Regions from separate parts of the Homo sapiens genome. Here all the other regions are linked to region 6. Evidence: fine-mapped expression QTL. A gene starts in region 6. Each other region holds a variant in brackets. All regions are shown on one strand. Distances are from middle to middle. Region 1 overlaps ACTR3 (actin related protein 3). Region 2 overlaps ACTR3 (actin related protein 3). Region 3 overlaps ACTR3-AS1 (ACTR3 antisense RNA 1). Region 4 holds the start of LOC124906165 (small nucleolar RNA U13). Region 5 overlaps ACTR3-AS1 (ACTR3 antisense RNA 1). Region 6 holds the start of ACTR3-AS1 (ACTR3 antisense RNA 1).

Region 1 (5,074 bases), 21 kb after region 6:
GTATGCATTTATTCTTGTGTTTTGAGAAGAGCATTTTTGTTTTGATTACATATTGACTGTTTTGTATTAGGTTCATTTGATCCTTTTGGTGTTTATTTTGAAAGTAATTCATTGATGAATATACTCAGCCTAGGAAATTTGATTTTGGCCAAGAATGGGGTCTTGATCAGTCTGGTAAGCTGGTTAAATGAATGTTTCTTAAGGGAATTTCTACTGTAATGTGGTCTGTACTTCAAATATTACTGTAATATTTAGGAGACGATATTTACACACATAAAAATATGTGTGGCTTATGGTTGAAATGAAGATTAGTCAAAAGAAAGGATGCCTGATAGTTAAAATGATCAGGAAAGACTTCCTGGAGAAGTTTTAAGTTGTGATAAAAGTTTTTTTGTTGTTGTTGTTGTTTTTTTTTTTTTGGGAGGGTGCAGTGTGAGCGTAGATAATATGTGAGGGGGGAATAGGGAATAGACAAGATATAAGGGAAAAAAGAGTAGCAGGTGTAGTATGCTTAGAGCTGGGTTTATGTAAGCAAGTGATAGCAGATGCTTATAAAAATTGGAAATGATTATGGAGAACTTTAATATTCAGCTGAAGGAATCAGAGAATGATATAATTGTTCATGTGGATGGGCCTTTAGGAACAATTTTACAATGAACAATTTTACAGAAATGGAAACAAGCTTGTACTTAATCTTGTAGCCAGTAGAGCATCATTTGAAGATTTTTGAGTTAGGCCGTTTGAAATTGGGAAATATGTATTTGGTCTTCAACTCCATATTCGGACATACAACTCCTATAATTCTTAGAAACTCCAAAGTGACGTCTGTTTGAGTGCTAATGGGATGACTGTTGGCTGGCAGCCCCTAGGTAACTTCAAGATGGGGCTGGTCACTTGAAAGACCAAGGCATGATTAGTGAGTTGGGACTTCCAGCCCCACCCTCCAACCACTGGGGCTGAAGGTTAAGTTGATCACCAGTGGCCAATGGTTTAATCAATCCTGTCTATGCACTGAAGCCTCTATAAAAACCCAAAGGACAGAGTTTGGAGAGCTTTCAGATAGCTGAACACGTGGAGGTTCTGGGAGGGTGGTACGCTCGAGAGGGTGTGGAACGTCTACGTCTCTTCCTACACACCTCACCCTGTGTGTGTCTTTATCTGTATGCTTTGCAGTATTATTTATAATAAACCAGCTAATGTGTTTCTCTGAGTTTTGTGAGCCACTTTAGCAAATTAATTGAACTCAAGGAGGGAGTATGGGAAACTCATCTTCAAGCAGGTGAGTCAGAAGTTCCAGAGTCTGGGGCTTGTGACTGGTGTCTGAAGAAGGGGGGCAGTCTTGGGGACTGAGCCTTCAACCTGTGGATTCTGATGTTATCTCCAGGTAGATAGTATTGGAATTGAATTACAGAACACCCAGCTAGTGTCCACTGCAGAATTGATTGCTTTTTTGTTGTTGGGAGAAACCCTCCACACATTTGGTCCCAGAAGTCTTCTGTGTTGATTGCTGTGGTGGTGGTGTGTAAGCAGAGGAAAAAACAATTAGAGCATTGTTTTTAGGTATATTATTCTCTTGTCCTTTGTAGGAGTTCTAGAATTGGAAATACTGTTTTGTCCTGTTTTAGGGTATTGTTGGGTATAGCAGCTTGAATTGTGGTGGTGACAAATAAGAATAAAAGTAGAGAGATTAATATGTGGGATCAGACCAAGGAATAGTTAGGTATTAATAATTCACTATTGGTTAGATAGTAGTAGGCTTTTAGGTAGAGTGTTTTGGTTCAACAGTTTCAGACTGCTTTGTATTAAACAAGTTTTTATTTTGGTATAGTAGACTAGTCATTTCCATTTGTCCACTGGTAAGGTATTAAACTATACTGGATGGGAAGGAGAGCATCTAATGTAGTAGGAGCAGTGTTAATAGTGGCTTGGTGGCATGAAATGAGTTGGAGTGTTGAGAAATTGTCAGCTGTTTTTATGGTTAGGGAGTTTAATGTGGTGTCAGGGCAGCTGGGAGAGGTCAGAGGCCAAATAATAAAGGGACTTTTTTGTATACATTACAAGGAAATTTTTTGTTTTTCGTTTTTTTTTTTTAAAACGTGAACAGTGGGGAACTGTTGAAGAGGTTAGTCAGTAGACCAATATCACTTTTTTCAACAGTTTATGGTTTCCCCTTATTTTTAATGATTTACTCTTATTTGGCACA[C/CT]TTTTTTTTTTTTTTTTTTGAGACGAAGTCTTGCTTTATCACCCAGGCTGGAATACAGTGGCATGATATTGCCTCACTGCAACCTCTGTCTCACAGGTTCAGGCAATTCTCCTGCCTCACTCTCCTGAGTAGCTGGGATTACAGGCGCCCACCACCACACCCTGCTAATTTTTGTATTTTAATAGAGATGGGGTTTCACCATGTTGGTCAGGCTGGTCTCGAATTCCTCACCTCAAGTGATCCTCTCTCCTCGGCCTTGGCACACTCAGTTCTTGAACTTAATTTGGAGGCTAAAACATTCCCCAAAGATATTGTTTATTTATTTGTTTATTTTTTGAGACAGAGTCTCACTCTGTCTCCCAGGCTGGAGTGCAGTGGTGTGATCTCGGCTCACTGCAACCTCCGCCTCCTAAGTTCAAGCGATTCTCTTGCCTCAGCCTCCCAAGTAGCTGGTATTACAGGTGCCCACCACCATGCCTGGCTAATTTTGTATTTTTAGTAGAGTTGGGGGTTTCACCATGTTGGTTAGGCTGGTCTCGAACTCCTGTCCTGGTCCCGTAATCCACCTGCCTCAGCCTCCCAAAGTGCTGGGATTATAGGCATGAGCCACTGCTCCCAGCCTAATTTCTATAGTTTTAGTAGCGAGGGTGTTTCACCGTGTTGGTCAGGCTGGTCTTGAACTCCTGACCTCAGGTGATCCACCCACCTCAGCTTCCCAAAGTGCTAGTGTTACAGGTGTGAGCCACCACGTCAGGCCCCCAGCAGATTTTTTTTTTTCATTTTATCTTAGAAAAAAGATTCTTCAGATATTAGAGTCCAAGAATGTCACAGCAATTACCTGTCTGCTATTTATCAGTGAGTTTGAATATGGAATAATATAAAATGTTACATTCTCTTTAAAGCCTGCTTATAGTTAATAGCTTTTCCCACATAGCTAAAAAATGCCCCACTATCTCCTAAGTAGCCCCCACATACTGCTTGTCAGAGCTCAGCTTTTATAATTTCTAATCCTTATTTATGTTGTTATTTTGTTAGAAGAATGTAGGCCAAGTCTACTGTGACAAAACATTAAATCTTATATTTATTTTTGAATAGTAATTAATTTGAATGGTATGAAACAATGTACAATGAAAACAAATCTCCTTCTCATTTCTGTTCATCATGCCCCAGTTCCCTTTTTTGGAGACAACCAAAATTATTCTTGTGTAGTCTTCCAGAGATACGTTGTGCCTATACAAAATATTTCATATGTTTTTACTCCTCCCCATTAGTTTTATACAGATATACCATACTTGATACATTGTTCTGTATCTTTGTTCAATAAGTAATATATTTTGGGAATTGTTTCCTATCACTATACTAAGAGCTTCCTCATTCTATTTTTTGTAGCTGCATAATATTCCATAGTATAAACTTAGCATATTTCAATAGTTTCCAGTTTGATTGATATTTAGGTTATTTCCAGTCTTTTGCTGTTAGAAGCAAGATTGTAGCTAATGACCTTGATTGTGTATTATTTCACATATATTCCTGAAGGATCAATTTCTTGAAGTGGAATTTCTTTTCAGAAGCTCTGTGCATTTATAATTTTGATAGAATTGTGAAAGTAGGGGTTAAATGAAGTGAAACTATGGAATTTGGTATATTATTTACCTACGATGGAATCTCACTTCATAACAAATGAAATTCTAAGAAAGAAATGTATAATTGCTAAAATATTAGTGAAATCTTTATAAATTATTTTGTTTTGCAGGTATACAAAACTAGGATATGCTGGAAATACAGAACCACAGTTTATCATCCCTTCCTGTAAGTATTTCTTTTAAGCCACAAATGAGCTGATTTAAAAGATCCCCTTCCCTAATAATTTAAGTAAAAGAAGTAATCAGTTCTGAAATCCTAAAAGATTTAGTCCTTTTAAAAACATGATTTGCCAGGTTCTAAGTGTGGCCTCATTTTTGTATGTCTGACTATTCATTTCAGCTTTATGTTTAGCTCCCCATTTGCCATGTCTACTAAATACCTCTTTTTAAAGAAAAAAAGAAATTAGCTGATAATGAAACAGTACCCCAATTTTTAGGGTGATATTGCAGTTAACAGTATGGGGGTATAACTAATTATCAAGTAGTCCATTCCCCATCATATACCTATGAAGACTGTCCTTTGGTTTGTGGATATGACTACTGTTTGTAGGGCCCGTATCTGTTGACGTCCTCACTAAGTGCCCATGTTTCAAAATATGGATGGAAGGACAATATCTCACTATCTCACCTTTAGAGATGTTGACCTCAGCTGTTTTCTAATATCCCATAACCATACTGTTGTATGTCTTTAGAGTATTTTTGTTTTATCCTATTTTTGTTAATCTTGCTTAAGCTGACCATTAACTTTCAGTAGTTTTTAAAAAATATTCTGACATTGGTTTGTTAGTGCTCGTTTGTTAGCATAGGTCTGTTCCTTGATTAACGTACTTTTACACTTTTGACTTGCAAACAGTTCACGTTTTTTGTACATAATATAGTAACACTTCTGATCTATTTGTCTTACAGCCAAATTAAAACTTTTGCATACCAAGTGACAAACCTTTTGAGCCGTTGCTTAGTGGTTCTCCTAGACATTTTAATTTTGAGAGTGTCACTGATTTTTCACAATCTTATTTATGTGACTGAATTTTTTGTATTTCATTGTTATTCATTATGAAAATAAGAAAATGGAAAAATGAATATGTAGAGAGTAATGAAAGCAGTGTATGTTTCAGAATCAATGAAGTTGAGAATAAGATGTTAGGCTTTGCCAAAAACTGGATCTTTAGTATCACTTGAGCACTCATTGGACACAAGAGGTCAACTGTTTTGTCATTTGTGTAGTAAG
Region 2 (5,074 bases), 32 kb after region 6:
CCTTCTGTTGCCCATGCTCGTCTCAAACTCCTGGGCTCAAGTGACCCTCCCATGTTGGCCTCTCTCAAAGTGTGGGATTACAGGCATGAGCCACTGTGCCAGGCTTTTAAAAAAATTTTACTTGACATATAATAATTGTACATATTTATGGAGTATGTAGTGATATTTTGATATGTACAGTGTGTGGTGATCAAGTCAATGTAAGTAGCATATTCACCTCAAACACTTATTTTTTTGTGTTGAGAATATTCAGAATTCTCTGTTCTAACTATCTGAAAATATATAATAAATTAACTGTAGTCATCATATAGTGCTATAGAACACTAGAACTTATTCTTGCTATCCAGCTGTAATTTTGTATCCTTTATTCAAGCTCTCCCTATTCCCTTCTTTCCCCTACCCTTTCCAGCCTCTAGTAACCACTTTTCTACTCTCTACTTACATGAAGTCAATTTTTTTAGCTTTTGCACATGAATGAGAACATGCAATTTTTTATCTTTTAGTCCCTGGCTTATTTCACTTAATGTCCTTTGGGCTCATCTGTGTTGCCAGGAATGACAGGATTTCACTCTTTTTTTATGGTTGAATAGTATTGTGCATATATACTACACATATCCGTATGGACACTTAGGTTAATTTCATATTTTGGCTATTGTGAAGAGTACTGCAATAAACATGAGGGTGCAGGTATCTTTGATATAGTAATTTATTTTCCTTTGGGTATATACCCAATAGTAGGATGGCTGGATCATATGGTAGTTCTATTTGTGGTTTTTTGAGGAGCCTCTGTACTATGCTTTATAGTGGCTTTACCTATTAACATTCCCTCCACAGTATATATGAGTTCCCTTTTCTGCACATCCTTGCCAGCATTTGTGATTTTTTTTGTCTTTTGGGTAATAGCCATTCTAACTATGGTGAGACGGTATTTCTTTCTGGTTTTGATTTGCATTTTCCTGATGATTAGTCATGTTGGACGTTTTTTTCATGTATTTGTTGGCCGTTGATGTGACTTCTTTTGAGAAATGTCTATTTAGATTATTTGCCCTTTTAAAAAAATCAGTGTTTTTTTTTTTTTTTCTTGCTGTTGAATTGAATTCCTTATATATTCTGGATGTTAATCCTCTGTCAGATGTACAGTTTGCGGGCATTTTGACCCATTCCATAACTTGTATTTTCCCTCTGTTGATGGTTTTCCTCACAGAAGCATTTTAATTTAATATAATCCCATTTGTCTATTTTTGCTTTTGTTGCCTGTGCTTCTGAGGTCTTATTTGTAAAATCTTTTCCCGTACCAATGTTGTGAGAGGTTTCCCCTAAGTTTTCTTCTAGTACTTTTATAGTTTTGGGTCTTAGATTTAAATCTTTAATTCATTTTGAGTTGATTTTTGTATAAGGTGAGAGCTAGAGGTCTTGTTTCATAAGGAGAAACACTTTTGACTGGGTAGTGTAGAGAGGAGAAAATAAGTTTAATTTTGAACACATTGTGTTTGAGGTACTTGTGAGACGTCTGAGATTTTGTTAGAGTCAAATATGTGGATTTTGGAGGTAAGAAACAAGGCAGAGCTGGAGACAGAGATTCAGAAAGTGTCAGTTACCTTAGACGGGTTGACATTACCTAGGGGAACATATCACAGGGGAAGAGAACTAAGACAGAGCAGTGTGCCAGTTAGGTTTGAGTAGAGGAGGAAAAGTCTGCGAAAGAGACTGAGAATGCATGGGTAGATATGTAGAGGTAAACACTGTAGAATGGTGCTGAGATGAGCTAGAGCCCATAGATAATTTGCTGTCTTTCGCTACAAGGTGGTGATTTGTAACCTGAATGAGAATAGTTTTAGAAGAGTAGTTGGGCTAGATGAAAGTAGGCTTTTGAGTGATAGGCCAGGAAAAAAGTAACAGTAAGAGTACTGTTCATTGAGTTTCAATTGTGATTGGGAGGGAGAGAGAGATGAAGAGACACATTTCAACGTTAAGATGGAAGACATGTCTGAATGCTAATATGAAAGAACTATTAGAGATTAAAGTAACAGGAAAGATAAGGTATAATCAAGGTCTCTGAAAAAGCTGGAGGGATGAGATCCAGAACACAGATGACTGAATTGACATGCGGAATATCTTACATTATAATGGAAGTAAATGAGAAAAAAGGCTAAGTATGGAATCCATTTTACAGATTTGAATTCCTGACTGTTGGCTTCTGCTGCTTCTGCGAAATATGTGGTGGCATCATCTGCTGGTCATGGATGTGGGGAGAAGGTGAAATCTTAGCGGTAGGGGCGGCATTGACACTCGTCATTGTGAAGAGTAAAGAGGAACAGAGTAGAAGAGTAAAGGCTTGCCAGGCAAGGTTAGGTCCATTTGAGAATAATGACTATGAATTCTTAGTCTTTAGCACCCTAGTGCAAATGCTTCTGCGGTATAATCAGCATTCTGGATATAGGCAAGTTTATGTTAGGGATATATGCTGGGTTGGATTTTGGTAGACAGGATGAAAAAAGAACATGTGAAATAAAGGTGATGGGTCAAAATCTAGACTGTGTATATTGATGGCTAGGGAATAATTAAAGCAACCAGTGGACCAAAAGTCTTAATTGGTGTTCAGAAGAGATCTCTTGAGGTGGTTGAGTATGCTAGAATAATAAGAGGTTGTGATCAGAGAAGGGTATACCTGCATTTCAGCGATTGAGAGGTGATAGTGATGATGATATAAGATCTATACTGTGGCCAAAATGGAAAAGAGATACCACTGAAAGTGATGAAGTCAGTCAGTCGAGAGGCCAGAGTTCCTTTCCACTGATTCTGTCCACTCATTTTAAACGCATTTTTAAGTCTTCTAAGTGCTACTAACAAACCAGAACAAAACTTCTCTCAATCTTTATTCCTACCTTCTGTCCTCAGCAATTTAGCTATTTTTCTCTTTCCTTTTAAAACGACACTTCTTAGTGAGTCTCAAGATATTTGATATGCTCTTTGTTAAATCCAATTATATGTAACAGTTTTCATCCTTCTTGATTTGTCTTTCTTTTGCAGGATTACTCTAATGGTTATCTTCCTAACATGGAATATTTGTTTGTTTGTTTGTTTGTTTGTTTGTTT[G/T]TTTTTGAGACGGAGCCTGGCTCTGTCGCCCAGGCTAGAGTGCAGTGGCGCGATCTCAGCTCACTGCAGCCTCGACTTCGGGTTCATGCCATTCTCCTGCCTCAGCCTCCCAAGTAGTTGGGACTACAGGCGCCCACCACCGTGCCCGGCTAATTTTTTATATTTTTAGTAGAGATGGGGTTTCACCGTGTTAGCCAGGATGGTCTCAATCTCCTGACCTCGTGATCTGCCTGCCTCGGCCTCCCAAAGTGCTGGGATTACAGGCATGAGCCACTGTGCCCGGCCTGTTTTGTTTGTTTTTATTTGTTGTTTCTATTGTCACTGATTTCTCCTTTACCCACTACTCAAACGTTGGTTTCTCTAGGCACTGCTTTCAGTTCTCCTTTTTTTTTTTTTTCTCTTCTCATAAAATGGGGTGACTCAATGTTTTATTCTTTCATTAAAGACTTTCTCTAGGTGATCTCCTCCATTCCTTTGTCTGCAACCACAGACCAGATCTCTACTTTCAGTTCCTTGACTACATCTTCACCTACCTATTTCCTGGCTCTTGAGTTTTAGTATATCTAAAACAAAACGTATTATATATACTCCACTCTTGTTTATTCCAAGATCAGACAAAACACAATTTTTATGTTTTGATTAATGGATCTGGTCCATCCTAACTTCAAAGCTGGAAACCTGTTGGCATCTTCTGACTTTTTTCTCTTTTTTTTTTTTTTTTTGAGACAGGTGTCTTGCCCTGTTGCCCATGTTGGAATGCAGTGGTGAGATCTTGGCTCACTGCAAGACCCTCCACAATCACTTTGACCCTCTGGGCTCAAGTGATTCTTCCACCTCAGCCTCCTGAGTAGCGGGGACTACAGGTGTGTGCCACCACACCTGGCTAATTAAAAATTTTTTTTTTTTTTGTAGAGACAGGGTCTCACTACGTTGCCTAGGCTGGTCTCAAACTCCTGGGCTCAAGCCATCCTCTCACCTTGGCCTCCCAAAGTGCTGGGATTATAGGTATGAGCCACCATGCCCAGCCCTTTCTTATTCTTATTGACTGAGAAATCTTCAATGTGGCCCCTTGTCGTCCATACCACTATTGGTACTCTTGTTCTCACTTGGTTCTGTTAAGCTTCATTTGAGCTTTCCCAATGCTGCTATAATAGTCTTCCTAAAAATTAAAGCTGTTCTTATTCCCCTGCTTAAAAATTTCTCTGCTGTTTTATTTCTTATAGAATAAAACCTAAATAAAAGGAAAATTTTTGAGAATCTAGTCCCTTTGATCTAGAACTGGTATATCTCTCTACGCACCTTCAAATCTTTTGGCACATAAATTTCTCATTGATAACTTCAGTTTTGTTTTTGTATACCATGCAGTGTTTGTCTTTCTATACATCTTTTTCTGTTCTCCACAAGTTCCTCCATACCTCTCATTCCCCTGCCAAAAAAAAAGCCAGAAAGCAGAACTGAGTTAAGACCCGGCTTAGATATGACCTCCTCAGCGAAACCTTTTCTCTCACAAAACAAGGTGGTCATCTTATTCAAGGAACTATTTATTTATTTATTTATTTATTTATTTGACAGAGTGTTACTCTGTTGCCCAGGCTGGAGTGGAGTGATGTGATCTTGGCCTACTGCAACCTCTGACTCCTGGGTTCAAGAGATTCTCCTGCCTCAGCCTCCCCAGTAGCTGGGATTATAGGTGCCTGCCACCATGCCTGACTGATTTTTGTATTTTCAGTGGAGATGGGGCTTCACCATATTGGCCAGGCTGGTCTTGAACTCCTGACCTCAAATGATCCACCCACCTCAACCTCCCAAAGTGCTGGGATTACAGGCGTGAGCCATCGTGCCACCTTTTTTTTTTTTTTTTTTGGAGACAGAGTCTTACTCTATCGCCCAGGCTGGAGTGCAATGGAGTGATCTTGGCTCACTGCAACCTCCGCCTCCTGGGTTCAAGTGATTCTCTTGTCTCAGCCTCCCGAGTAGC
Region 3 (5,074 bases), 52 kb before region 6:
TTGCCCAGGCTGGAGCGCAGTGGCGCAATCTTGGCTCATTGCAACCTCCGCCTCCTGGGTTCAAACAATTCTCCTGCCTCAGCCTCCCAAGTAGCTGGGACTACAGGCACGGCTAATTTTTTGTATTTTTAGTAGAGACAGGGTTTCACCATATTAGCCAGGATGATCTCGATCTCTTGACCTTGTGATCTGCCCGCCTCGGCCTCCCAAAGTGCTGGGATTACAGGTGTGAGCCACCGCACACGGCCCCCTCTTTATTCTTAATAATGCTTTTTTGTCTTAAATTGTATTTTTGCAAATATTAGCATTTTTATACCAGGTTTCTCTTGTTTGGAATAGGTGTTGACAGGTTTACATTTTTTCATATCTTCATTTTCAAAGACACCCAGCTAGCGTGTGGCAAAGCCAGTTTTATTCCTGCATCCCCTAACCCCCAGTCTATTATTCTTTTTTTCGTGTCTCAATGTCTCAGGTCCACCTTCTTTCATGATTCAACATAAGTCACTCTTCACTTTGAGGCTCCCCCAGCAACTCAGTCTATCATGATTGCTTCCTCTTCTGAGTGCTCAATGTCCACAGTACCCATTTGGTCCTTAAAATCTTAAAAGTATGCTACCTTGGTTTTGTGTTGATCTCTATCCTGGAAGTTCCTTGAAAGCTACAATATGAATTATATCTCTTCTGCAGACTGCTCCAAAATTACTTTACTAAGGGGGGCTAGTGGTACAATCTGATTGGGAAGGGAGTGCGTAGGGGACTTGTCTGGAAGCTGCATTTGCATAGCAGACACTTCATTTTATTTGCAGTGATTGAGGGTGAGTGTTACAGAGTTTAGGAAGAGGTAAGCTAATGCCCCCGTATACCACTCTTTCAGCTGTCACTGACCTCTACCGGCTTGCCTATGATAGTGGTTTCCAACAAATTTAGCTGCTCTTCAAAATCACCAAGGGAGTAAGATTTTTTTAAGTACTTATTTTCAGATCTCCCTCCAGAGCCACTGAGTCAGAATCTCTTGAGTGGAGCTTGGGAACCTAGTGTTTAAGGAGCTCTGTTGAAATTCAAGACATCTAAGCACCTGGTCCGTAGGCAATAACTGCTTGTAAATACAGGATGGGTACCAAGTCGGGAAGCAGAAAAGCTTTAATTGACATTCTATAATAATATATAAGAAAGTGATATCTGTTTCCAAACTCCCATTGCTACAAATGGTTTAGTGTAAAATAAGCTCTATTCAATCCCATTTAGTAAGCATTTCTATATGAAAGAGGCATATAATAATAACAAAAGTAATATCTGACGTCCGCTGAACACCTAATACACACCAGCACTTTGTCGAATGTTGTATGTACACTGTCTCATTTATTATTCACCAGGCTTCTCTGTGTGCTCTATAATCAGGGTCAACTTATCCATTAGGCTCACTAGGCACTATGTCAAGGGTCCATGACACTATTAGGGGCTCATGAAAATGTTTTTGTTTATTTTAGCATCAGAAAGGAAAAAAAAAGAACAGAATCCCTGTTGAATTATATTAGCCTTTTTACCAACACAGTCACAAAATATAGTTGGTAATCATTTTCATGGAGAAAGGGGCCTATGAAGGCAAAAGTTCCTTGGGCCTCTGAAAGTCATAATGCAAGCTTCACCATAATCATTCCCATTTAACAGCTGAGGAAGCTGAAGATCAATGAAGATGAAAATTTAAACTTGCCCAAAAGCCACATCTCTAGGAAACGGCAGAAGTGACCTTTGGACACAGGTCTGTGGGACTCTACTGATGACCCTTTCAACCACCACACTGTATACTGCACAGCATTATTTAGCAAAGAAGCTCATACTAAGTTGAGAAAACAGGTTTGTTGTACATTAACCAGTTAGAAAATCCTTCAAGAAAAGAATATAAATTAATGTCTAAATTCAGGGACAGACCCAGATTGCGTGGGGCCTGAGGCTTTTACAATTTAAATGATCTTCTTAAGACAATACAAAATTATAAATAAAAATTAGCCACACAGTCTTGGAGGGGACTGTCCAAGTTAAGGGGCCCTCAAGTGTAAGCCTCCTTAGCAACATGGCCCATCCGCCCTTGCCTAAATGTCTTTGGGTCTAAAGAAAGCCAGGGTAGGAATCAGTGTAAACCAGGGCATATCAGCAAAGGACTCAAGGAGGAAATGGGACTTTGCAGTATGGCTGTGAGTTGGGCACCCTGAGTGCAAACCCTGGGGGCCAAGTGTGAGCATAACATGTTTAGAGGAAAGCAGAGAACTCACCCAACTGAACCTACTGTGTCCGGGGTAGGGAGAGGATCCAGGGTTCCCTGAGGAAAGTGAGGCCTGTTTTGTTTAATTCATTAATTTATTTATTTTTAAGACAGGGTCTCACTCTTTCACCCGGCTGGGTGCAGTGGTGCAATCATGGCTCACTGCAGCCTTGACCTCCCAGGCTCAAACAATCCTCCCACCTCAGCCTGCTAAGTAGTTGGGAACTACAAATGGCTAGTTTTGTTTTTTGTTTTCAATTTATTTTTTTGTAGAGATGTGGGGGGAGGAGTTCTCCCTGTGTTGCCCAGGCTGGCCTTGAACTCCTGGACTCAAGCAGTCCCCCAGCCTTGGCCTCCCAAAGTGCTGGAATTACAGGTGTGAGCACTGTGCCTGTTTTAAATACCAGGATGGAGGCCAGTGGGAATCCTTATACTTATTCCTGGGTCTTATGTCATTACCTAATAGTAGGGCAGGACCCTTGGGAGGGTCAGGAAGAGGCAAAGAGGTCTAATTGGGGGGATTAATCTGAGTGTGTTTTAATAAGCACCTGAAATTATGGTTGGCTGGGAGGAGGGAAGAGAAAAAAAATGAGTAAGCGTCAAAAAGGCTCAATCAAGTAGATAATGAGGA[CT/C]ACAGGGGAAGAAGAGTCAGCGATCATTTATGCATTTCGAGCATGGATCACTGAAGGAACGGTGTGAGATTGCCAGAAATGTAGAGACCGGTTACGTTTGGTTCTAGAGAAGTTAAATCCAACAAAATAATCACAACAGAGAGGCATCCTGAACTAACTTGACCAGACCCGCTGGCCTTAGCCTTTGCTGTTGTTTTCCAGTTACCAATGCCCCATCTGATTGACACTTGTTTTTCTCAGTTGTGTTAACAGCATTAAGACATTACAGTCAAGGTCGGCCTCCTCTTCTTTCTGGCTAGGAAGCTGTGGTGTTATTTTATACACACACACACACACACACACACACACACACACACACACACACACACATTTCCGTCCACAGTTCCTGGACCATATCTCCCAGAGCCCTCGTTACAACCTTTCGTTATAAGGTTGGGTGTGTTAGGCCTCAGGAGCAGATTCAGAAAACAGAATCTCTCTGACCTTTTCCTGCCCTTCTTTCACCTTCTGGAAGGCAGGACTCTAGTCTTACCCCACCTTTCTGACTACGGGTCTTAAGATCCTCTCCAGAGATGCTCCTGCCCTATAAGCCGGGGGAAGAAATGCTGATATCATGAATCTTCCACAAAAACCCAAGAGGACTGGATTCAGGCAGCTTCCAGATAGCTGAACACACGGAGGTTCCTGGATGGTGACCGCCAAGGGAGGGGATGGGAGTTCCGCGCCTCTTCCCCCATACCTCACCCTGTGCATCTCTCCGTCTGTATCCTTTGTAATGCCCTTTATAACAAACCAGTAAACTTTTTTCCTGAGTTCTGTGAGCTGCTCTAGCAAATTAACTGAACGCAAAGAGAAGGTGTAGGAACCCCAGCTTGAAGCTGGTTGGTCGGAAGTCCCAGAGGCCCACATCTGCAATGGGTGTCTGTGGAATGGGCAGTTTTGGGGACTAAGCCCCAAGCCGATAGAATCTGATGCTATCTCCAGGTAGACAGTGTCGGAACTGAATTGGAGGACATCCAGCTGGTGTCTGCTGCTATGTGAGTCGGGAAATTCCCCGCATATTTAGGCAAAGAAGTCTTCTTCTTTGTTGTTGATTGCTGCTGAGGTGGTGTGAGGGCCAAGAGAAAACTGGGTTTGAGAGTATTTTTCGAAACAGAAGCACTTTGCCTTTAACATGGCTTTTGTTAAACACCATCATTAGAAGATTAGTTATAATTCAACTCCCAGAGTTACAACCCTCTCCTCTGCCTTTCCAGGTGAGCGGCCAGAGGACTAGTCACAACGAAAATAGAAAGAGGAGAAGGGATTCAAGAGGGCATTACAGAGGTATAAAAATCAGAGGCCCAGAGCAGTGGCTTATGCCTGTAATCTCAGCACTTTGGGAGGCCGTGGTGGGCAGATCACCTGAGGTCAGGAGTTCGAGACCAGCCTGGCTAACATGGTGAAACCCTGTCTCTACTAAAAATACCAAAAATTAGCCGGGTGTAGTGGCGGGTGCCTGTAATCCCAGCTCCTCAGGAGGCTGAGACAGGAGAATCGCTTGAACCTGGGAGGCAGAGGTTGCAGTAAGCCGGGATCGTGCCATTGCACTCCAGCCTGGGTGACAAGAGCGAAACTCCACCTCAAAAAATATATATATATATAAATAAATAAAAAATCAAGGAATTATACAGAAATGGCGAAAGAAAGGAAAAAAGTTAGATTGGTGAACAAAGTGCAAAGAAGTCAGCAAAATGAGGAGGAGGCTCAAAACTAGAACTTGCTTTTTGGGATATAAATTTCTCTGTAAGGAATCCTCTCCTCGCGCCCCCCACAGGAAGTGGGGAACATCTTTCCTTTACCCCCTGTGACTCCCCAGGTTGCAGTCAGTGCTTCCCATTGCAGAGCCTACCAGGTTACCAGAGACCAAGGGAGCTGGGAAATGCTAGTTCCTTTTTATAGAGGAAGAGTAAAGAAGAGTTAACACACAGAGGGGTTAACTATCCTTTTGCTCCTGATTTGTAACTTTATTATATTGTGATCAGGGAATATGGTCTATATAATAATGACTGTGTTGTTTGTTGACTCACTTTGAGACATAAGACATAGTCAATTTTTGTAAACTTTTTTTTTTTCAGATGGAGTCTTGCTTTGTCACCCAGGCTGGAATGCAGTGGCGCGATCTCGGCTCACTGCAATCTCC
Region 4 (5,074 bases), 44 kb before region 6:
TTCCTTAACTGGCAAAAGGGTGAAGTTTATTTCCAGAATGGGGTAAAATAGATGGTTCTACACTGGGAGAACACCAGTGCAGTTGAGTGTGAGAGAATTGTACTAAAAATAGTGGATTAAGTGAATTCATGCATATTAGCTTCTGGGATACCCAATACATATCCATCTTTTCCTTCTCTGGGCCAAGAACACTGAAAGTTAGACCTTCACCCTCCAGGCAGGACATGGAGTCTTCTCTGGGAAATATGCTTGGTCCATGATGAAAGACCTGACCTTGGAAAGATATTGACATTGGAAGTTCCCTCAGTAGACCCAACCCACCGTGATGCTCTTACAGTGAAACCCACATCAGACCAGCCCAGCTCTCATATTCTCAGGGCTTCCAGCCAGTGTTTCAGTATCTCACTCTTAAATATTATCAGATACAAAGATGATAAGATATGTGAGGAAAGCCTTTAACTTGGAAGATAGAAAATGAATAAAGAAAAAAAGTAATGTCAAGGAAATGAAGATAAAATAAAAGTCAAACCTCTCACAAAGAGAAGCTACTATAACCACAAGACAAGAAAAGAATTCTACGCAAAAATAAACAAGCAAATAAATAAATGGAACAAAACACATACAGAAGATCTTGAAAATTAAATACATAGCTGAAAGGAATATTTTATTTTCTTTCTTTGTTTCTTTTTTTGAGACAGGATCCTTCTTAGTCACCCAGGCTGGAGTGCAATGGCATGATCATAGCCCACTGCAGCCTGGACCTTCTGGGTTTAAGCAATCCTCCCACCTAAGCTCCCTGAGTAGCTGGGACTACAAGTGCATGCCACTATGCCTGCCTAATTTCTTTTACGTTTTGTAGAAATGAGTCTTACTATGTTGCCTTAGTTGGTGTCAAACTCCTGGGCTCAAGTGATCCTACAGCCACCGCCTCCCAAAGTGCTGGGATAATAGATGTGAGCCAATCCACCCAACTAGAAATTAATATTTTCAATAGAAAGGTCAGAATGTAAAGTTGAGAATTTTTCCAGCAAAAAGAAAAGGGAATGGAAAACAGGAGATACAAATGTCAGACAATTAGGAAATTGGTCAAGGGTGTTAGCATCTGTGTCCATACCCAAATCTCATCTTGTAGCTCCCATAATTCCCATGTGTTGTGGGAGGGACCCGGTGGGAGATGGCTGAATCATGGGGGTGGGTCTTTCTTGTGCTGTTCTTGTGACAGCGGATGGGTCTCATGAGATCTCATGGTTTTAAAAAACGAGAGTTTATCTGCACAAGCTCTTTTTTTTGCCTGCTGCCATCCATGTAAGATGTGACTTGCTCCTCCTTACTTTCTGCCATGATTGTGAGGCCTCCTTAGCCATGTGGACTGTATGTCCAATTAAACCTCTTTCTTTTGTAAATTGCCCAGTCTCGAGTATGTCTTTATCAGCAGCAGGAAAATGGACTAATAGAGCATCCAAAAGAAAAAAATGAAGAGAAGTTAATAATCTGAATTTCCAGACAGAAAAATGTATTAAGTGAATACAGTCTTAGGCTAATGCACACATTGTGAAATTTCAAACATTGAAGACAAAGAGAAGATCCTGCAAGATTGTAGAAAGGGGAAAAATATACAGGTCATATACACAGGATCAGAGATTTATGAGAATAAAAATGTTCCCCAAAACTTAGGGAAAGGCAGTTGTTCTGTAGTCATAATAAGAAGTAGCTATCAAAAACTGGTTTTAAACCCATGTAATCAATCAACACAATTCCCCTCAATGTACACACTTTTACAAACCAACACATCAGAATCAGGTCTTTGTTTCTGAAAAACAGCCAGTCATAGATGGATTCACTCCTGTAAAAACACCTTTGAGTGGTGAACGATCAATAAAGTTTCCCCTCCCCTAAGGAACTGTGATTCTGCAAATGATGACATCCTACTGAAGTCTCTGAACTCCCTGAACTCATGCTTCCTCAAAACCGTAGTAGTCTGCTCCACATGGAAAGACAGTTTCTGACCATCATAGCTCTCACTAGAGCAAGGAGTAAATTCAGCTTTGTCCTTTTATTTCAGATATTAAGTGGTGGTCTCATCATCTTTTGGCATAGACTTTTAACTTGTGAACAGGAGGACTGGCTACAAAGCAATGGAGAAAGGTTTTCAAAATGTTAAGAGAAAATAATTAACGATCTAAAATTCTACTTCCAACCAAACTAGCACTTAAACACAAGAATCGAAAAAAAATTAAAAAAAAAAAGACATTTTCAGACATGCAAGATTTCATACAATTAATTTACTGCTCATGTACTCTTCCTTGGGAAGTCACTGAAGGAAATCAAGCAAGAGGAAAATGTGGATTACTAGAAACATGAGATCCAATACAGGAAAAAAAGCAGAGGACAGCCCCAGGATGATGGTAAAGAGAGATCCCAGCATGGTATCTGATTCATGCTGCAGCTTGTATAAATTACCTTGTGCTGCATAACAAACCAACTCAAATCCCAGTGGCTTAAAACAACCATCTATTTAGTTCACAATTTTGCTAGGCGGTTCTTCTGGCTGATCTTAGCTAGGCTCACTCATGCATCCATGGTCAGTTGGCAGTTTAGCTGGGGCTGACTGGTTCCAGATGACCTCACTCAAATGCCTGACACGTGTCTTGGTGTTGGCTGCAGTGATGAGATGACTGGACTATGTTTCCCTCCTCATCAAGAAG[G/T]TGAGCCTAGTTCATCACATGACAGCGGGGGTCCAAGAGCCCAAACCACAAGGACTCTTCAAGCCTCTACTGTGTCATATTTCGTTGGTCAAAGCAAGTCACATGGTCAAGGTCAGAGCCAAAGTGGAAAGTATACTCAGAGTTACAGAGCAAAGGAACACAGACACAAGAAAGGGAATCATTGCTATTGTTGCTGTTGCTGGCCTCATTTTTTTTTTTTTAAGTAAGGATAAGGTTTTGTTTTGTTGCCCAAGCTGGTCTCAAACTCCTGGGCTCAAGTGATTCACCCACCACGATCTCCCAACATGTTGGGATTACAGATGTGCACCACCGTATTTCATGTTTATTATTTTTTTCATTATTTCATATTTAGTTTTTTATTAGTTGTCTCCCCTAACAGAATGTAAAGTCCCATGTGGGCAGCCATATTTGCCCCCAGGTGCTGAAAACCGTTTCTTTAGAATAAATTAATGAAAACAAAAAATACATGCAGAAAGGAAAAAAAAAACACAAATCTTTATAGTGGCTGCTTTGAGAGAGGAATTGAGAATTTGAGTGTCAGGAGTGGAAGAGCAGGAGAAATGGACTGACTTTTACTTCTTTAGGTCCCCCTGTCTTCCAATCCCTACAGGCTTCCGGGTCCAAGTGGTGGCCTCCACGGCGCTGCACACCCACAGAGATTCATGAGAGTGTCGAAGGGAAATGTGAGAACATCTATTTATCTGCTATTTATTTTCATGTCAGATGGGCAAAATGTTGACATCATGACAAGGTTTGAGGATGGCACATCCCACACTTGAATGTGAACACCTAATCATCATGCTTATGAACTACAAAAGCATCAACATATTTATGTTTGCTTTCTTCCTAAGAGAAAAAAGGCATTATTTGTATTTAATTTACAGATTTTTAGTACTTGCTTATAATTTATAAATTATATTCTAGATTGCATGCTCAGTGATTTTGCTGACAAGAGTATGGAATCAAAGACATTTGGTCTGAAGAAGTTTAGTTACAGACTAATAGCCCATAGGTCTTGTAAATGGTGAACGTGTTTGACTTGTCTTGTACTGTTTTAAAATGATTTGAATAAAATCCAGAGATTTCACATAAAATTCCAGATTTCTGGCTGTTTTTTTTTTTTGTTTTTTTGTTTGTTTGTTTTTGAGATGGAGTCTCTCTCTGTCCCCCAGGCTGGAGTGCAGTGGCATGATCTCGGCTCACTGCAAGCTCTGTCTCCCGGGTTCACGCCATTCTCCTGCCTCAGCCTCCCGAGTAGCTGGGACTACAGGTGCCCACCACCACGCCTGGCTAACTTTTTGTATTTTTAGGAAAGATGGGGTTTGACCGTGTTAGCCAGGATGTTCTCGATCTCCTGACCTTGTGATCCGCCTGCCTCTGCCTCCCAGAGTGCTGGGATTACAGGCGTGAGCCACTTCTGGCTTTTTGAGACACTAGAGGAGCTGGCATTACTGGACCTGTGATGTGCTGGAGCTGGTGAGCATGTGAACGTTTAGAGGTGTGTGGGTGTGTGTGTGTTTGTGTGTGTACGTGTACTCTTGTGCACCAAGGTCTTCCTAATGGCTTCCTGTGGGTTCTCCTATTCAGTTCACTTCACTCATTTATCAGCCTGGCCTTGCAGACATTTTAGTTTCTGGCCCTTTTCTGACAGTTTCTCAACATCAGCCAAATCATTGTGCCTGCTAGCAGGGAAAGTGATGAGATTTGCTAATAATGTAATTTTTTTTTCAAAAAAAAATGACTGATTTCAGAGCTACTGCTACCCTAACACTACACTTACTCACTTTCAATCCTGGTGAGTAAGAATAATAGGGCATGTGTTGACACACCAGAAACCAGGCTTAAAAGGGGAGTGTGTCCTTGTGAATCACCATTACTCAGGTGCGTTCTGGCTGAAAGCAGGCTGACAACCACTGATCTGCAGTCCACAGTTTTGTACCTTGATATTCTAATTATGTGTAGTCCTCCTTTGTTACATATGTAACTACAGCTTCACAGGAACTTCTTGCAGGTACTGCTTTATCACATATATCACCATGGTTTGCATAGTGAAATATAGAGAGATGGTAAAGGAATACACACACAGATGTATGTACATAGAGTAAAAGCAGGAAGAGAATGTCTCATTTTTGTTTTGTGGTCTGTCTTTAATATCATTTTCTCATTCAATCCTCATAATAGTCATATATGGGTAGTATTTTTCTTTTTATCTTAATTTTAGAGATGAGAAAATGATGCTTAGAAAAGTGAAATAAGGGCCGGGCATGGTGGCTCACGCCTGTAATCCCAGCACTTTGGGAGGCTGAGGTGGGTGGATCACGAGGTCAGGAGTTTGAGACCAGCCTGGC
Region 5 (5,074 bases), 22 kb before region 6:
AAAAAAAAAAAAAGAAAGAAAGAAAAATATATAGTGAGCCCAATAAAGCTGTATAATCTAAATCAAACATGACTTGCATGCCTGGAGACTTTGCACTAGAAAAATATTTCTACCTAAAAAATCAAATTTTATTTTCTTTCTCACAAATATTCAATCTGCTTTCATCTCAGTTCTTCCTACCTTGTCAAACCTCTCCCCACATTTCCTATTCTTTTTCTCTCCAGCCTGATATCTCTCATTATACTGCTTAAGAGAAATGTTATGTTACTATTCTTTTCTCCCAGAACTGTTTCTCTGGTTCTTTAAGGTGTCTGAGTACACACTGTGCCTTCTTCCTTTTAGCCCTCTCTTCTCCTTGTTCCCTGAGCCTTACCTTTATGACCTTAGAACTTCAAGTTCCCACTACAATTTTAAATATAGACTATTTTGCTTTTCCTCCTACTAGGGAGCTTAAATTGCCTCTAATTACACTGTTTTCCCGAGTCCTTCCTCTCCTTTGCAATTTAGATATAGCACAGAAGCACATTTTGCTTGACTGTCCTCTGAACTGTCATGCTGTTTTGATGTGGTTCTATTGTCCAAGAGTCTTGGTTAAATAATAGCCCAGCATCCCACCTGTGTTTAAAAGAACTGCTTCACAGGCAAATCAAAAAGCCCATGGATCCGAAGTCACAATGGGCGTTGCTATTCAAACAGCACCAGATTGCTATTCAACGCTTGGTTGAAAAATAAATTTCAGTTTCATTCACCTAATATATTTCCTTCTATTTTGTAGGATGGTATGCTCTTACTTCAATTTGGACTTGTTCACAATTGAACGTTAACATAGCCTTATAGATTAGCCTGTTTTCATTGGTCCAGAGTATTCTCCAAATAAAGCAGGGTCTGTGCATTTTAAGCAACTCCCCTGAACAATTTCATGGGCATTCTCAAATTTGAGAACTACCTGAAAAGCTGTGTTGGAGAAAAGAACAACCAATGAATGTGGCAGGACAGAATATTGAACATTAACTTCCCTTTTCCTCTTCTCCCATCTGTTCTCTTCCATTATCCCTACCCGTCCGCTCAGTCTCGTTATTCAGGCAACAGTTATTTTGCCATTATTTCCTCAAGAAAGGAACAAAAGTAAACACAATTGCTTTCTGATTTTTTTTTTTTTTTTGCATTTTAAAATGGACTTTGAAACCATAAGCAAAGAGGTGTTTAAGAGTCTTTCCAAAGCCAAAAATGAAGGTTTTGAAATTTCAAAGTCACTGCCTTGAAGAGACTCGAGGTTTGGAGTGTGTACAGTATGTCGGAGCTGGACTTTTCTCCTTCCTGAGACTAGATAACGGTCTGAATCCAAGACAGTTTTCATGATTTCAGAGGAAGTGGTCAAGTGGTCTGTGAGGTAGACCTTCTGCTTAAGAGCAGTCAGGAGGCCGGGTGCCGTGGCTCACGCCTGTAATCCCAGCACTTTGGGAGACCGAGGTGGGCGGATCACCTGAGGTCAGGAGTTCAAGACAAGCCTGACCAACATGCAGAAACCCTGTCTCTACTAAAAATACAAAAAATTGGCCGGGCACGGTGGCACATGCACTCCAGCCTGGGCAACAATAGTGAAACTCCATCTCAAAAAAAAAACAAAAAAAAGAGAAGAAAAGAAAAGAAAAGGAGCAGTCAGGATGTGTGCCTCCAAAGCTGAGGTAGACAAAAAGATACCAGAGTTCTAGAGGCCTGCCAGGCACAGCAGCAGCAGCAGAAGGAAGGTGTGGGCGAGAACAGGGCAGCCAGGCGTGTGCCACCTCCCAGACACAATTATTGGGAATGGAGGGCAAGTGGTGATGGGAGAAAATCTTGACTTAATTGATGTCAAGATTAAAGAAATGCCACCTGGTGGCATTTAAGTTCACACATAGGTAAAGAAAGTTATGCATTTACTGTGAAAGTCATCCCACTATTTAGTAGAAACAGGAGATCTGGATTCTGGTCAAGAGTCTCTTTTGCCAACTGTGGCACCACTGAGCAGCGGCACAGCTTTTGTGAATCCTGGGTTCTTCATTATTAAAATGGGGACATTAGCGTTGGGTTGAGTATAAGAAATGGACATTTTTGCAGGTCAAAAATGGTTGAATATTTGCATTTTCATATGATTCAACCGAATACTTACTTCACAGGCATAAGGAAAAAAATAGAATAACATACTAACAACTGTCCCTGGAGTAAGTACTTAACAAATACATGATTTATAAAGAAGATATGTGAAAGATATTTGTAAGTACATGATTTATAGAAAGATATGAAAGTATGTAAACCCTTGTGGTCTAATGGTCACAGAATAATCTGAGCTTAATATCCCTGCTCCCTACCATACAGAAGGCAAAATGCCTATTAGGGGTTTTCTTTCTTCACCCTCTCCTTCTTTTTCCTCCTCCTCTTGACTCCTCCTCATCCTCCTCTTTCTTCTTCCCCTTATTAATGTCTAAAAAGGGGCTGAGCATGGTGGCTCATGCCTGTAATCCTAGCACTCTGGGAAGCTGCGGCAGGTGGATCACCTGAGGCCAGGAGTTTGAAACCAGCCTGGTCAACATGGCAAAACCCCATCCCTACTAAAAATACAAAAATTACCCAGGTGTGGTGGCAGGCACCTGTAATTCCAACTACCCGGGAGGCTGAGGCAGGAGAATCGCTTAAACCCGGGAGGCAGAGGTTGCAGTGAGCCAAGATTGTGCCACTGTTGTCCATCCTGGGTGACAGAGGGAGACTCTGTCTCAAGATAAATAATAATAATAATAATAATTTCTAAAAAGGTAATACATTTTCATAGTTCAAAAACCAAAAGGTATAAAAGGAAATACAGTAAAAAATTTCCTATCATATCACTGTCTAGAGTACTATTCCTTATATATTTTCCTGATTTTTGAGTATTTTAAAATGTGAGTGTTGGATATGAGTGTTGGATTTAAAAAGTTTTATGATAATTTGTGTATAT[TTG/T]TGTGTGTGTGTGTGTGTGTGTGTGTGTATAGTAGTCCAAGACTATCAGTTTATGAATAATAAGAGGAGACCCATGGAAAACCAGTCCCTTTGACCAAGTTCACTCAGATAATCAGCAGCAGGGCTTGGACATTAATTACAGTTATCCAACATCCTTTGAGGTCTCACATGACAAATTACAAATATGGAGTGTAAATGTAACCCACTTTGCTAGGCAAAAAAAGCCCTGTTTTTTTAAAAAATATATATTTTTGGCTTATGGGCAACAGAAGCCAGGGAGACGTACAGTCAAACCTCATTTCTCATGGCTTTCATATCTGCAAATTCTCCTACTCATTAAAAGTTATTTATAACTCCCGAATCAATACCCACAGCACTTTTGTGATCATTGGCAGACATGTGCAGAAAAGAAAAAAAAATTGAGTTGTTGATTGCACACATTCCCAGCTGAATTTCAACAAAGCAACACTCTGCCTTCCCACTTCAGCTTTCTTACTATATGTGTGTCCTTTTTCTGTTTATTTAGTACCATGTTTTTCACACTTTCGTTCTTTTTGGTGGTGATTTTGCTGTTTAAAATGGCCAACAAGTGTAGTGCTAAGTGCTGCGTAGGGTTCTTAAGCACAAGAAGGCTATGATGTGCCTTATGGAGAAAATACGTGTGTTGGATCAGTTTCACTCAAGCATGAGTTATGGCGCTATTAGCTGTGAGTTCAATGTTAACAAATCAACAATATATGCTAAAGTGTCTTTAAACAGAAACACACATAAAACAAGGTTATATGTTTGGTTGGCAAAAATGTTATAACCAGAAGCTTGCAGAAACCTAACCCTGTATTTCCCTTAAGAGCAATGGTTCATTATTCACTAATTCAATGTTTACAGCAACTTTATAAACTATAACTACCATGAATAATGAGAATTGACTATGTTTTAGATCATAATACCTGAAGTGAAGTTTTCCATCATGGTTTTTAGTTCTTAGAGTCCATTTAAGTTTTTTAAAAATATGATAGCTATCCTATCACATCCCACATTCTTGAGATTAAAAAATTAATCTTTTATTTGGTACAGAAAAGGCTCCTGCGTGCATTTTTGGAGGGGCTGGACCGCTGAGGAAGTCATGGTTGGCTCAAGTGGTTTAAATGCATTGCTAATTTCATAGCCTCTGAACCACTTATGAAACAATACTGATGATATGTCAGTAGCTATGTTTGCAGCTCCTTCAGGAATGCTTATATCTTTTACTGCTGGTAAAGAAGAAATTTATAGTAATAGATTTTTTTTTTTTTTAGATAGAGTCTCACTCTGTCGCCTAGGCTGGATTACAGCGGCTTGATCACGGTTTACTGCAGCCTGGATCTCCCAGGCTCTCCTACTGTAGCCTCCCCAGTAACTAGGGCCCCCACACAGGCATCACCACACCCAGCTCATTTTTTTATGTTTTATAGAGACAGGGTCTTACTATGTTTTCCAGGCTGGTCTCAAACTTCTGGGCTCAAGCAATCCTCCTACTTTGGCCTCCCAAAGTGCTGAAATTACAGGCATGAACCACTGCACCTGGTTTATGGTCATCTTAAGTAGAGACTTATGAGTGCGTATCATTGTATCACCAATCTGAGACTCAATTTTATCTTTCTGTTAATAGACAATGCAGTTTTTCTGTTAATTACAATGAAAATCAAGGGTTGCTTAGCAAGTTTTTACTCATAACTCCAAGTTTTGTGACTTATAGTGAGAAATGGGTATAATTCTTTGTGATTTGTTAAAATGCAGTATTTCGAGGAGGGATAACATATAAAATTTAACAGTTTCCTATCATTATTTTTATCCTTTTGAACCACTGTATACTACAGATAGACAAAGGCAGCTTTGGCCACTTACTCCTCAGTGTGACTAAGTTGACCAGATGTTTTCCAGACCACAGGTTCTGTCAAGAGACAGTGTGGAGAGAAATGGGTAGGCAGGTATGGAAAGAAGAGTCAGAAACAGATAGTGAGCTAATCTCTACAAATGGCTCGTTATGGCCTGAGCTGTGTTCTCCTCCCCGCAAAAAGATATGTTGGAGTCGTAATCCCCAGTACCTCAGAATGTGGCCTTA
Region 6 (5,074 bases):
GTCATAATAGAGTAGGTAAGCAATGCTTACCTGTCAAATGAATGAATGAAACACCCGATTCATCCCCCAAGCCAGCTTAATACATTAGATGATCTTATGGACTGAATAAGACATCCCTCCTTTTAAAGAATATTTTTGTTTTAGCTTCACATCAGCAAACCCCGAACGGTTCATCCTAAGATAAGCCTGGTAGAGAGGAAAGATACTAACCTTCTAGGGTCCTAAAGTGGAACTAGGAACTTATTAGATATGCACATTCTCAGGCATTATTTCCGATAGCCCAGTCAGAGAATTCTGGGGGTATGGCCCAGCAATCTGTTTTAACAAACCTTTCAGGTAATTCTGATACACACTAAAGTTTGAAAGGTTTCTTTAAGGCTTTCCAGTTTTCTTTTCTTTTTTGGAGGGATGGGGGGGGGTCTCCCCATGTTGCCCAGGCTGGTCTCGAACTCCTAGCCTCAAGCTATCCTATCCTCCCACCTCGGCCTTCCAAAGCATTGAAATTACAGGCATGACCCACTGCGGCTCGCCTCCGTTTCTAACTTAAAAAAATTTTCTTTGGAGGGGAGCCTTAATCCTTTCTATTATCCTGCTAGTAGAATCTTACTACTCCTGAGGGTAATCTTTGTCATAATCCAAAAGCCTTGAATAAAGGCCTATTTGTATAGTTATGCAGAATATATTCCTGGGAGGTTTGCCTTCCTAGGAGCACAGGTCGGCCCTGGGAGGTGGGGGTTGGGGGGCAGGGCTGCATTCTAAAGTCCTGTAACAACGCACAAGTACAACTGAATAGAACTCGGAACAAAGGCATCAGGGCCACGGTGCAAGTCTTTGTTCATCCGTTCCCCGACTGCTCACCCTGTCTGATACCGCTCTTTTCCACCCAGAAAAGCAGCCACTCAAGTTTTAAGAATGGATGTATGCCGCGGACGTTTTCGATTAGGCCGTTTTCTCTCAGGCACTGGAGGATATTCGTGGCTGCAGGAGGCGCTTCCACCCTTTCCTCAACCTAGCAAAGAAGTAACTGAAACTAACCCAAGGGTTACAACCGAAAAGCCCCTTCCAGCTTCAGAAGCAGAACTGGAAGCTCGGATAGACTTCTCCGCCTCTACACTCCTGGAAAACCCGCAGTGGATTTCACCAACTTCAGGATCGGAGCCCAGGCAGGCGAACGTACCTTATTGCGCATGCTCGCTAGCCCCTCCCGCTCGGAGCGGAAGGGGGAGCGCTGGGGGCCTGGGCCTGGCCTGGCCGGGGCGTCGGCACCGGCGGCCATCTTGGCTTCCCGGGGAAAGGCGGCGTGAGGGGAAGAAGTTGTAGGGTGGGGGCAGGAGTGAGGAGGAGGGAAGAGAGAGGGGGAGGAGGCCGCGGCGGGGCAGGGCGGGGACTGCCTGCCTGCCTGGGTTGCGGAAGTGATAGCCGCCGACCGAGCCTGCTGCTTTCTTGCTACTGCTTCGGCTTCCCGGCTACCCCCCGGACGGTGAAGGCGGCCCAGCTGTGGATGGTCAGATAGCCCTTGTCTCCCGCCGCCAATCTCTGGCCCCTAGCAGCACGGAGCAGACGGCGGCAGCAGCAGCAGCAGGCGAGGAGGAAGATGGCGGGACGGCTGCCGGCCTGTGTGGTGGACTGTGGCACGGGGTAAGGGGGCTTACGGGCGGGGGTGGGGAAACTGAGGCGGAGGAAGGAAGATGGCGGGGGAGGGAGGAGGCCGGGAAATGAATGGTGCGGCGAGGTGCCGCCGCCGGCTGTCAGTCCTAGACCCGCCGGCCAGCGAGGGGTGGGGCCCGCAGCCAGGGCCTCGCGGGTCCCCTCGTTTCTCCCTCCTGGGACTGGGGCGGGGGCGCGGGCCCGAGATTCAACCCCCAACCCTCCCAGCGGCTTTCTCCGCGCGACCCCTCCCGGCCCTTCCCCCACTACGGTGGGCAGCGCCGCCCAAAGGGCGCTGGGGACGGTCGTCTTGGGGGTGGTCCCCGGGCCCGACCCATCCGGCTTTCCTTTCCCTCCGCGCCCGTTTTTGCCAGTCGGTTTGGGGACCCAGGGGCCGAGCTCGGGGACTGGCCTGGCAGGGGAGCTAGAAAAGAGAAGCGCTCCTGGTAGGTTTGACAAGATCGCTGTGACAACATTCTGCCCAGGGTGTGGGTGGGGAAAGGGAAGAATCGGACTCTGAAAATGGGAACCTACAGTGGGGCTTTCATTTGACCACCCACCTTCTCCTTTCGACTCCTGGTCATTTCCATCTCCCTCTGCGTTTTAACCGGTGAACCAAGTCACATTTTAATTCGAGGGAGAAAGATGTCATGTGTTACTTCTGTAGCCTCAAAAAAGTCCCCCAGTGAGCAAGCGCGCTGCAACTTCCTTAGTTTTGTCAAAGCCGCTTCCTGCTTTCAGTCTTTTATACCCTTATAAGGTAGTTTTTAGTTTCCAACCTGAGCACATCTTACTAGAACTTTTAAGCAGGTTTTAAAGAGACTGAATTACCGGTGCTTGGTGTCCATTTATATGACTTAAAAAAATGTACTTATGTTTCATGGAGTGGGGGAAAGGAAGCACCCTGGAAAATAAACTAATTTAAGTTGTATTCGTTCATTCTGTGATGGTATCTTGAAGGAAGCAGGAAGGTATAGAGGTATATAGGAGGGTGTTTAAGTTGCAAATAGTTACTCGTAGATATGTAGGGTAGTTTGCGAAAATGTAGAGTGGCTTTAAAGTGTGGTCGTTCATTTTGTATTAATAGACGTTTTAGAGAGTTGTACCACACTCATAACTGCATAGAGAATAGACTACCCTTATTTTTATGTAGAATCACTGCTTCAGGATGACATATAGGAAAGTGGTTTTTTTTTCTGTGCTGATGACATCTCTCCAATTCCCAGAACACTCCCAGTTTTTTTTTTTTGAGGGGGAAGTCAGTAAGAGGTGGACTGTCAGGCTTTTTTTTTTATTATTAATTATAATTATTGATTTCATTATTGTTACTTAAAAGATTGTGTGTCCTTCACTCTTTATGTGAAATTTCTTTAATCTTCATTCTCATAACTAGCTAGTGTGGCAGTTTCTAAAATCCCAGTTAGGTAGAGAGAAACCACCAACTTCTTAATATTCTCCTAGGAAAACACTAGCCTTGGAACTTCTATGTATTTTTTTGATGAACACTTTATTTAAAAGTTTTTCCTTAATTCAGTCTCATTTCTCTGAACCAATAATTTTTTTTATTTCTCCCTTCTTAGTCTAATTGGTGAGTATTTTTATGTCTAGGTTCAGTTTTAAAATTAGATTTGGCCTGAGTCAGTAGGATAGGACTTTTCAAATGTGTTTTGTTAAAGTGACGAATATTGCTACATAATTAATGCTTTAGAAATTACTGCGTTTTCAAAAAAATAGTGTAAATAATTGTGGCCCTGAGAAATAATATGGTAACATCTCAAGTAGTATGTTACTTTTCTAATCTCCATTTTCCCCCTTTTGAAATAGTTTCGAATTAGTATACAAGATGTTTCATTGAGATAAACTGTCCTTAAGTGACCTCCTTTCCTAAAGGGCAACCTTGAATTTAAAACATGCTGAATGACCAGTAGGATCGGGAAGAGGGGTTCAATTTAACCTAGGCTATTTCTGTTTTAAAATTACGATTATCACAATAGTGTATTTTTAAGTTATTACATTGGTTTCTCCAATAAGGAGAGGTTATTAACTGCACATTGATGATTTGAATGGAACTGATTAGGAGTCCCCTTGCCACCTCACTCTCTTTTACCATTTGTCACAATCTGAAATTCCCCCTTTAGAGTTTCAGTTATTTTGGTTCTCAAAAGCCTTTTTGGTCTTACAAGTTTCCAGTGGTGCCTCCTGGGAAGTTACACCTTCAGCTTTATTTGCACATGGAGGATAAGTCCTTGAGGTTGAGGACCCTGAGATAAACATCTCTAAGTATGGCCTTAACAGGGAGCTTTTACATTTCAAAATTCTGTGGTCCCCGAATGCAAATTGTGCACCTGTAATTTGTCTAATTTTTTTTATGCTTTAGAGAATGCATTCAGCTCTGAGGTCTCTAAATTACAATTACTCACTTAGTTTAAGTAAAAAGTTATAACCTGAATCAGGTTGCTCATTTCATTCATTATATAAATTAGGGGAAAGGTGGCTGAAAAAAAGTGGCCATCTGTAAAACTTGATCGTCTTAGATAGGAAAGCTGTTAAGAGTTAGGAAACTTGAAACTTAAGCCCAAAACTTTTAGGGATCGTCCAGCAAAACTCAACATATGAATCACCTAGATTCAGGTCATAAAAGAGAATACTTATTTTGAAAAGAATTTGAAAAGAAATGCTTCATTCACATTGATACCCTTATCTACACACTTTTTTGGTCTGTATTGGAAAGCATTGTAAAATACAGTTGGGGCACATAGATTCCCATTGGTGGCTTGAAAACTAAATAACAGAACTCAAACCTGCTATTAGTGGTGAGAAAAGCATTTTCTTTAAAAGGCATTCACAAACATTTTTTAAAAAAACATTGTAACACTTGTATGATCATCCTAAGGTTTTTTTTTTTCTGGGCGGTGGAAGGGATCGTTTTTTAAATGTGTTTTTTGCTTTTTGTTTTTTTGTTTGTTTGTTTGTTTGTTTTGAGATGGAGTCTTGCCCTGTCGCTGGGCTGGAGTGCAGTGGCACGATCTCGGCTCACTGCAACCTCCACCTCCCAGGTTCAAGCTATTCTCCTGCCTCAGCCTCCCGAGTAGCTGGGACTACAGGCACATGCCACCACACCCAGTTAATTTTTCTCTTTTTAGTAGAGATGGGGTTTCACCATGTTGACCAGGATGGTCTCCATCTCCTGACCTCGTGATCCACCCGCCTCAACCTCCCAAAGTGCTGGGATTACAGGTGTGAGCCACCGCGCCCAGCCTTAAAGGTTTTTTTTAAATGCATGTTTTTACTCAAGTTTCTCCATCATTCAAGCCAAATGAGGGCGCTCCTTATTAACTCCTTGTTATATCGTAGCTTGGTTACAGAGCTGCATTGTGAATTTCCTTTTCCCTTTTATGTCTTTTTTTTTCCCCTGGTAAATAAAATA

Evidence for each region. PIP is the estimated chance that this variant, and not a neighbour inherited with it, causes the effect.
Region 1: its variant is fine-mapped to the expression of ACTR3-AS1 in Th1 cells (Schmiedel 2018, PIP 0.95).
Region 2: its variant is fine-mapped to the expression of ACTR3-AS1 in lymphoblastoid cells (GEUVADIS, PIP 0.95).
Region 3: its variant is fine-mapped to the expression of ACTR3-AS1 in T cells (TOPMed, PIP above 0.99). The same link has a PIP of 0.9 or more in lung.
Region 4: its variant is fine-mapped to the expression of ACTR3-AS1 in blood mononuclear cells (TOPMed, PIP 0.92).
Region 5: its variant is fine-mapped to the expression of ACTR3-AS1 in follicular helper T cells (Schmiedel 2018, PIP 0.95).

The regions. Positions count from the first base shown.
Region 1 is chr2:113,909,216-113,914,289 of GRCh38, forward strand. It overlaps ACTR3 (actin related protein 3), which reads left to right. Exons shown (of 12, transcript NM_005721.5): 2 at 3,957-4,012. Among named protein-coding and RNA genes, the nearest start is that of ACTR3-AS1, 21 kb to the left of the region's middle. The variant C/CT (reference allele first, on the strand shown) is at 2,204.
Region 2 is chr2:113,920,254-113,925,327 of GRCh38, forward strand. All of the region lies in intron 3 of ACTR3 (actin related protein 3), which reads left to right. Among named protein-coding and RNA genes, the nearest start is that of ACTR3-AS1, 32 kb to the left of the region's middle. The variant G/T (reference allele first, on the strand shown) is at 3,097.
Region 3 is chr2:113,836,719-113,841,792 of GRCh38, forward strand. The region is part of intron 3 of ACTR3-AS1 (ACTR3 antisense RNA 1); the gene reads right to left. Among named protein-coding and RNA genes, the nearest start is that of ACTR3, 51 kb to the right of the region's middle. The variant CT/C (reference allele first, on the strand shown) is at 2,892.
Region 4 is chr2:113,844,690-113,849,763 of GRCh38, forward strand. The region is part of intron 2 of ACTR3-AS1 (ACTR3 antisense RNA 1); the gene reads right to left. LOC124906165 (small nucleolar RNA U13) reads right to left here and starts at 3,547; the gene lies at 3,444-3,547. The variant G/T (reference allele first, on the strand shown) is at 2,706.
Region 5 is chr2:113,867,170-113,872,243 of GRCh38, forward strand. The region is part of intron 1 of ACTR3-AS1 (ACTR3 antisense RNA 1); the gene reads right to left. Among named protein-coding and RNA genes, the nearest start is that of ACTR3, 20 kb to the right of the region's middle. The variant TTG/T (reference allele first, on the strand shown) is at 2,972.
Region 6 is chr2:113,888,686-113,893,759 of GRCh38, forward strand. ACTR3-AS1 (ACTR3 antisense RNA 1) reads right to left here and starts at 2,307. Exons shown (of 5, transcript NR_110174.1): 1 at 2,208-2,307. ACTR3 (actin related protein 3) reads left to right here and starts at 1,404. Exons shown (of 12, transcript NM_005721.5): 1 at 1,404-1,638. The coding sequence starts at 1,595. LOC124906071 (a long non-coding RNA gene) reads right to left here and starts at 1,082. Exons shown (of 3, transcript XR_007087205.1): 1 at 1-1,082. RefSeq lists enhancers at 775-1,084, 1,205-1,294, 1,327-1,982, 2,065-2,114, 2,165-2,344 and silencers at 1,375-1,434, 1,675-1,934.